2 linked regions of the Homo sapiens genome follow. The protein of the gene in region 1 interacts with the protein of each later gene in a pairwise test. Each region holds a gene or a part of one and is shown on either strand. Other genes may lie near its edges. The genes, in order: CACNG1 and VAPA.

Region 1 (3,820 bases):
TAAGTGTGATGGAAGCCAGGGCAGCGGGGCAGAGAGGGGCATCCCAGAGGCAGAGGCAGGAAGACTGAGAGTCTGCACAGGACCGTCACGGTCCCTCTCCTCTTGACCCATGACTAAGATGGGTCCACCTCGGATGTCCTTCCTCTTTACGTTGCCCTGGATGCTCAGTTTCCCAAATAATATCCACCTAGACCCAGGAACAGGGCAGGGAGGGAAGGGGCTCATAGTAGGGTCTGTCCATCTGAACAGGACCCTGCACCCTCTTGAGTAACATGGGCAGATGCCTGGCCTGATTTGTCCTAAATGAGGCCTGGGTCTGACGTGCCCCCACCCCTACAGGGGCCATTAGAGACCATGAAAGGGTTTATGGTCTCCAATGGGCAGCCACATAGCCCAGGAGTGGATGTTTCTCTCAGGTTCAGGGCAGGAGACACCGGTCTTTTTCACATGCTAAGCCCAAGAAAGGGGAGAGGTCAGCCCATCAGTCCTCAGGCCCCCAGTTCAGCCATGTAAGAGTGAAGCTGAGGCTTCCTGTTACCCTGAGAAGGAATCCTACCCACTGGAGGCCCCCTCCCTCCATTTGAGGACACTTAATGGAGAAGAGGGAGGAGGAACACTGTACCTGGACCACCAAAAGAAAAGCATCCCCCCAGAAGCTCACAACCTGGCTCCTGCAGACACGTAGCCTACCCCTGTGTCTGAGTTAAGATCATTTCTATCCAAGCAGCCAGCAGCCAGGCGGAGCCTGGCGTTTATCTGGTGGGGATTTGGTGAGCCAAATGCTACCTGTGTGAGAGTCACCTCAGCAACCCACCAGGTGCAAACAGCTGTGCCCCCAGCAAGGCACTCCATGGCCCTCATCTCAGGGCCCTCCGCTGGGAAGGATTTTAACTTATGGCTTTTGAGCAGTCAGGGAGGCAGCTGACCATGAAATACACTTGAATTCAGTCAATTCTGACAACTGAAATTGGCCCTTCAAGAATGAAACAGAAACAGAAATGTTTCTTTGTCCAGAGGGAGACACATGGAGACTTATGACATAGCATGGGCCATTTTGAAGCAGTGATTCGAGAGATCTACAGCCAATAATCTAACAAATAGAAGAGATCTGCATTATGCTTTAAAATAGCACCGGATGCCCAGAGAGAATAGCAGAGCACCAATTCTGACATCACCACCAGCAGTCAGACACCCCAGGTAACGCGGTTCAAAAGGAAAGTGATTTAAATATAGAAGCACACAGAGAAGGCTGTTTATGCCAGGAATGGGTACTGCTGCTAAACCAGATCCCATCTCCAGGGGTCATTTGCTTCCTCAACCTCAGGAGAGGCAGCAGCCCTGGCTCTGGGGGGAAGGAGGGGCATGGTATGAGACCACAGGCTTAAGGTGCAAGAAGAATGATTTAGGTCCGGTTAAAGAAAGTCTTCATCCCAAAGAAAAGCCTTGGTATCACTGCAGGTACATTTCCAGAAAGAACTAGGCATCAACCGCCTTATGAGCATCTAAATGAAGCCTGGAAGTGAAGAAATGAATTGGCAAACTAGACACCATCTCAACTAGAGAAAGAGATGTTTTTCTATTTAAGGGTCACTGATCCACAGGAAAAGAAATCAATGAAGGGCCTCCACAAATAAAAAGCAAACTAATTTAGTTTTGGAAGGAAACATAATATAAAATAACCCATTCATCCACTTCCTAAATCAAGAGCAAAGAAGATAAACCGTATTTAGCAAGAAATAAGACTGTGCTTTTTTTTTTTTTGAGACAGAGTCCCACTCTGTCACCCAGGCTGGAGTGCAGTGACACGACCTCAGCTCACTGCAACCTCTGCCTCCTGGGTTGAAGCAATTCTCCTGCCTCAGCCTTCTAAAGTGCTGGGATTACAGGTGTGAGCCACCACGCCCGGCCTGTGCTTTGATTTTATAGTATACCTAGCTATGAGAGAGAGACTGAAAGAGAAAAATGGAAATGAAATTATATTTTAAATCAGCATGAATTTCCTTGTGCTGAGCCCCTCCCCTCTCCCTCATCAAATTCAGATTTGCGTTCCTACTGCCCACAGACTTTCCATAGCTTTTATGACAATTATCAGGTGGGCCAAGCGGCTTTGTGGGGGCAGGTCTCATCTGGGCTGTCTCGCAAAGACCAGGGACCCAGTGAAACCACATGATGGTCACATTCAGCCCTCGTAGGGGTTCCATCTGCATCCAGGCCATCCCAATGGCCACTCGGAAAAAGCCCTTTGCAGGGCATTTTAAGGGGCCTGGAGCAGGGTTCCCATCCTGGCTGCACATCAGGCTCTCCCAGAAAGCTTTTGAAAAACACTGTTTCCCAGGTCCCACCAATGAACCAGGGTGTGCCTGGATTCTGATGAGAAACACAGTCCCAGGTTTGGGGTTGATCCAGGGTTTCTCAACCTTGACACTCTTGATATTTTGGCCTGGATCATTCCATGTTGGGAGGACCTGTCCTGTGTGTCTTGGGATGTTCAGCAACGTCTGTGGCCTCTACCGGCTGGGTGCCAGGTGTACCCCTCTCACCACCACCATAACCCCAGGCATCGCCAAGTGTCCCCTGGGGGGGCAGAATCGGCCCCAACAGAGACTGCTGTTTGGTTCTTTGTTGATTGTGCACCCTGCACACCCTGAAAAATGGCTTGAGCCTGGGCCTCGGTTACCCTGTCTGCCTAATGGGGTGCAGAACCCACAGGCCGTCTGCCCTGCAGACTCATCCAGCCTCAGCTCCCTGAAGACCTCCCAGCCCTGCAGGCAACCTCATTATCCCACTGAGATGTTGTTCTAAGGGTCAAAGACAGATGTTTCAGCCCAGATTAAGGATCTGGGGAGAAGAGAGGCTGCCAGAGCCCCCTGCATGCCGAGCAGAATGACACCACGCTCTCTGCCAGGCCTCTGTCCTTGCTACGGGTTGCTCCCCTCAACTCACAGTCTGTCTCCTCCTTTGCAGAGAAGAACTGTTCCTACTTCAGGCATTTTAACCCCGGCGAGAGCTCGGAGATCTTCGAATTCACCACTCAGAAGGGTGAGCCTGGGTGGAAAGGGGTCTGGGGTGACAAGAGGGGACTTCTGTGTTGTGCACCACTGGGCCAGAAAGTCATTGGCAAAAGCACTGACTTCCTCACGCCTGATGAGAAGAAGCCTGTGGTGCATTTGAACAACAGCCTTGTCAGCTCCCCGCTCCGGAGGCCCCAGGCAGCCGCCTTCCATCTCCAGGGCCCGGAGCTTCCACACCTCGGGGCCAGGGAGCGTTTGCAGAAGCAGCACCTCCTGGTAGGCCCCTACACAAGGGCAGCTGTTGTGACGGGAGGTGTGGATGTGGAACAAATGCTCAGAAGCCCCGTGGTGGCTCTTGGTGGCATGTGATAGTTAGAGTCTGCAGGGACAGTCTGAGTCCCTCCCTGGCCTAGAAATCCCTCCCTGAGTACCAGGAGGGTGCGGTGGGCTCTGGGAGCTTTTCAGGATCCGCAGAGCTCAGACGCACACCCATTGTCGGGAGTACAGACCCGTGCCTGCCTGCGCCCAGACAGCTGCACACAGGGTGAGTGGGCAGACACACAGACACACACTGACACACACAGACACACACAACACAGATACACACACACGACACACACAAGACACAGACGCACAGAGACACTGACACACACGCATGATGACACACAAAATGACACACAGTGACACAGACACACACTGATACACATGCATGATGACACACAAAATGACACACAGTGACACACACAGACACACACTGACACACACGTACAATGACACAGACACAGAGACACACACTGACACACACGTAC
Region 2 (3,820 bases), on another chromosome or scaffold:
GTATGCGTTACAGGGTTTGATACTTTCCTGCACTTAGGTTTGTCCTATTCTTCATTTATTCATACTAGGATAGAAAATTTTGGAATCAGAAAATAGATCCAGTGTTTAGCTACATACAATCTAGTACAAGTGAATTTTTATTCTTAAACATAGGTGTGTTGGCTCTTTTTTTAAAAGATGCGCTCTACCTGAAAAGGAAATTGGATTTTAGAACTGGATGTGGTGCAGTGAAGTATTTTAGGCCCAGGTCTGTGTACACATTTTATAGAAGAATGAAGTACTCTGAAGTATTTTGGTTGCCTTTTCATTTCAACTGTGTTTTGAATTTGTCAGATCACACATATATTGTGTTATTGGGCGCTGTGGTATCTTTTATAAAACCTCTTGCTTGTGTGCAAAAGTTCCTAAAAGGAAACACAAGTAATGCCTATCCATTACTAGCATGCTATGCTGCATGCTTTACTGCCATTGCTGTATGCTTTACTGTCTTTGTAAAAATCCCCCTCTCCCCTTTTCTGGTAACTGGAAAAGCATGCTAAAAATAGTCTTATATTTTCACCCCATAAATGCAGAATCAGTAATTCCTTGGCTTAAAGCTCTTATATAATCAATATTATTGGTGGTAAATACCAAGTTTGGTATCTCATAGCTATCTTTTTTTAAAGAAATTAAGTTCTTGAAAATTTAGCCAAATCCCGTTTTATGGGAATGCTCTTTAGAATTCATTTTGTTCAGCCCCTTTGTTCTATGGTTGAGAAATCTGAGGCCTTACGAAGGTTAAGAGAACTTTCCCCGTGTCTCACAGGTAGGTAGAGGCAGAGCTGGAACTAGATATCTGGTCTGTTGACTCTAGCTCAGTGTCTTCTGGTAACTGTTGAAAATTGTCTTAGTTTGAGAGATGGCTGAAATAATGAACATAAAATGCTATTTATAATAACAAGTATATGTGAAATTTCTTATTGTAAGACTACTACCGGCTTACTGTTGAATAGTTTGGTTATAGTGTTTAGGCTAGAAATGCCTCCCACATTGGTAATAAACATTACAAAATACAATGTATTTTTAGGTAGGCATTTTATAAAATGCATTATGCCATGGTTGCTTTTGAGATAGATTGTAGTCTGGGTAGCATCTTTAAAATGTATGTGGGCTTAACTGTTGTTCATATCAGGAGATGCTCTGATTGTATAGGTGAGACTCTGTTTCTGTTATTTTTAATTGCTGTATGAAATGTGATCAGATTATTTTACTACCAACAGTTATAGTTTGAAAGTCCAACTGTATTAATTGACTGATAATATGATAATATAGAGATTAAATTGTTTGTCTTCATTCCTTATATGTTTAGAAGTTTTTGCTTTGTCTGCCTGCTTACTTGTATATGTAAGCATGAGGGAAATACACTGTTGCTAATACTGAAATTACAATCAAGTAACTAAGGCCTTGAGTTCATATGTGACACTGAATGCACTAGCTTCCTTCGTTCTATAACTAATGTACCTTAACTTCCCCCATTCTTATATTTACAAGAAGCTAAGTCATTATGTTCTGAGTGTGTGGTATGTTCCCTTAAAAAAAAATGACACTTGGAAGAAAAATGTATGAAATTCAGAAATTCCGATCAAAGAAAAGTAATTCTTTCTTTTTTTTTTTGAGACAGAGTCTTGCTTTGTTGCCCAGGCTGGAGGGCAGTGGTGTGATCTCACCTCACTGCAGCTTCCGCCTCCTGGGTTCAAGTGATTCTCATGGCTCAGCCGCCTGAGTAGCTGGGATTACAGGTGTGAGCCAACAAGCCCGGCTAATTTTTGTATTTTTAGTAGAGACAAGGTTTCACCATGTTGGTCAGGCTGGGCTCAAACTCCTGAATCCGCCTGCCTCGGCCTCCCAAAGTGCTGGGATTACAGGTGTGAGCTGCCGCACCCAGCCAAGAAAAATAATACTCTTAAATACTTAGATGTTCACCTAAAGTTGATATTATTTGGTATGGGAATTACTTTTGAACTGTAATCTTTCAGATTACACCACTTTGAAAACAAGTTTTAACAGTAGGGTAAAAATATAGTTTTTGAGGGTATTCCCAACTTGTGATCTTCTACCACTTTAGAGACATTCAAGTAATAGTTTTCTTAGAGCTTTGCACATTCCTATTCACTGAGATTTTAAAAATTTCACCTTTATTCGAGGGAAGGATCAATGCTTATTACCATTTGGAAAAACGAAGATCAGAAGGTAAATGATCTTTATTTTCTAGCTTTAAAGGGAAATTAAACCATTCATGAATAAACTTTAAAAATGTGAAGTGTCCTTTTCCTTTTCACAATACAAAAAAAATTTCAACAGATTGTGTGGTTTGTGCATTTATATCCTGTTAAGCATTAATAGCTAATCACTGGGACTTGAATTCTGATGGCAGATAGTCTCTTGCTTAGTGAGATGGAGTTAACTATTTTTTAGTAGGAAGTGAGAACAGCTGATTTTCATGCCACGTTTCATAGCCCCACTTTTGGTAGACTACCACCACGCTTCTTCGCGTAAGCAGTGGCATCTTGGGAATGAATGCCCAGCCGCTCGTGGGTTGGTGCAAAGAAGTATAAACATATATCACTAAGGAAAAAGAAAGTTTGTCTTGCCCTTCTGACACAGTGTGTGCACTTCAGGCAATTTTTGGAAAATATAAAAAATTCCAAATTCTGCCTTTCAGCAGCATCAATTGCTAGGAACATTTCATTCATTTCCCTGTAATATTAATGTTCTTTAAGCATAATCACTAATTATAAGTTGTATCCTATTTTTTTCCAGCTTAATTTCTGTGGTTTATTGAAAACCAAGTATAAATGTGACTAAAAGCATTTTGCTTTGTTTTTATAGTTAACTTTCTTAAGGTTATGGACATTTTATAATGTAACATTTGATTGGCCTGGCCTCTTGACAATTCCCTTCTAGTTATGCATATCCTCCTGTTGCCACATTTCTTGTTTTAAAACTCAGTTTCTTGTTTTCCAGTTGTTGCTATGTATAACACCCATCTTGAAAGAGAGTATATAGGAAGTTATTCAGATAACTTTTGTAGTAGTGATATTCAACTATAGCAGTACCTTAACTCATGATGAGCTTAGGAACATAAAAGATAATTGTTGCTTGAATAGCACCCCCAGAGATACTGACCTAATTGGTCTGGGGTGGAGATCTGGCATGGTAGTTTTTTTCAAGCTCCAATCATCGGCCAGACAGTTGCTTTATGTAGGTTTTTAAATGCCAAAGGCAGATATGAAGTAGATTTAATTAAGACTTGACTTCAGCAATACAGGGGAACTTAAAATACTTATTTTTCTTTAAACTGCAGGAGTCACTGTTAGGTATTGCTTAAAAAAAATTGCATAAAAGCTTTGCTTGTCAAGTTAGGATTGCTGGAATACCACTAAAGATTTTTGACTTGTGAATAAATGAGCTGTCATCGCAAAAAGGCGATTTGAGAAATGTGGGCTTCAGTATTAATTGCCATTTTGCTGACACCCAGTGTACCTACCTACCTGAGAAATTTATTTTGTCCATCATGTATTTCTCAAAGCAAAAGGTGGTTTTCAAGTATAATGTCGTTTTCAACATGCTTATTACTTAGTTTTACGTCAGCTCATTTCATCATCATTGATAACTTGTGAAATACTTATCTCCATCCTATGGAATAGGGGAGACGGGTTTAGACAGGTTCAATTAGCTCAAGTCTACACAGCTGAAGTAGCAGAGAAAGTGGGATCTAGATGGTCTGATCCTAGTGATCTACCATATGAAGGACATAGTTTGTGTCCTGGTCCAAGTCAAA

What was found.
Region 2: the proteins of CACNG1 (region 1) and VAPA interact in binary tests that used the Homo sapiens proteins (3 or more experiments, as listed by UniProt).

The regions. Positions count from the first base shown.
Region 1 is NC_000017.11:67,051,032-67,054,851, forward strand, and holds part of CACNG1 (voltage-dependent calcium channel gamma-1 subunit), read left to right. Parts: intron 1-2,964; coding exon 2,965-3,039; intron 3,040-3,820. UniProt on the Homo sapiens protein: Regulatory subunit of the voltage-gated calcium channel that gives rise to L-type calcium currents in skeletal muscle. Regulates channel inactivation kinetics.
Region 2 is NC_000018.10:9,955,397-9,959,216, forward strand, and holds part of VAPA (vesicle-associated membrane protein-associated protein A), read left to right. Parts: 3' UTR 1-3,820. UniProt on the Homo sapiens protein: Endoplasmic reticulum (ER)-anchored protein that mediates the formation of contact sites between the ER and endosomes via interaction with FFAT motif-containing proteins such as STARD3 or WDR44.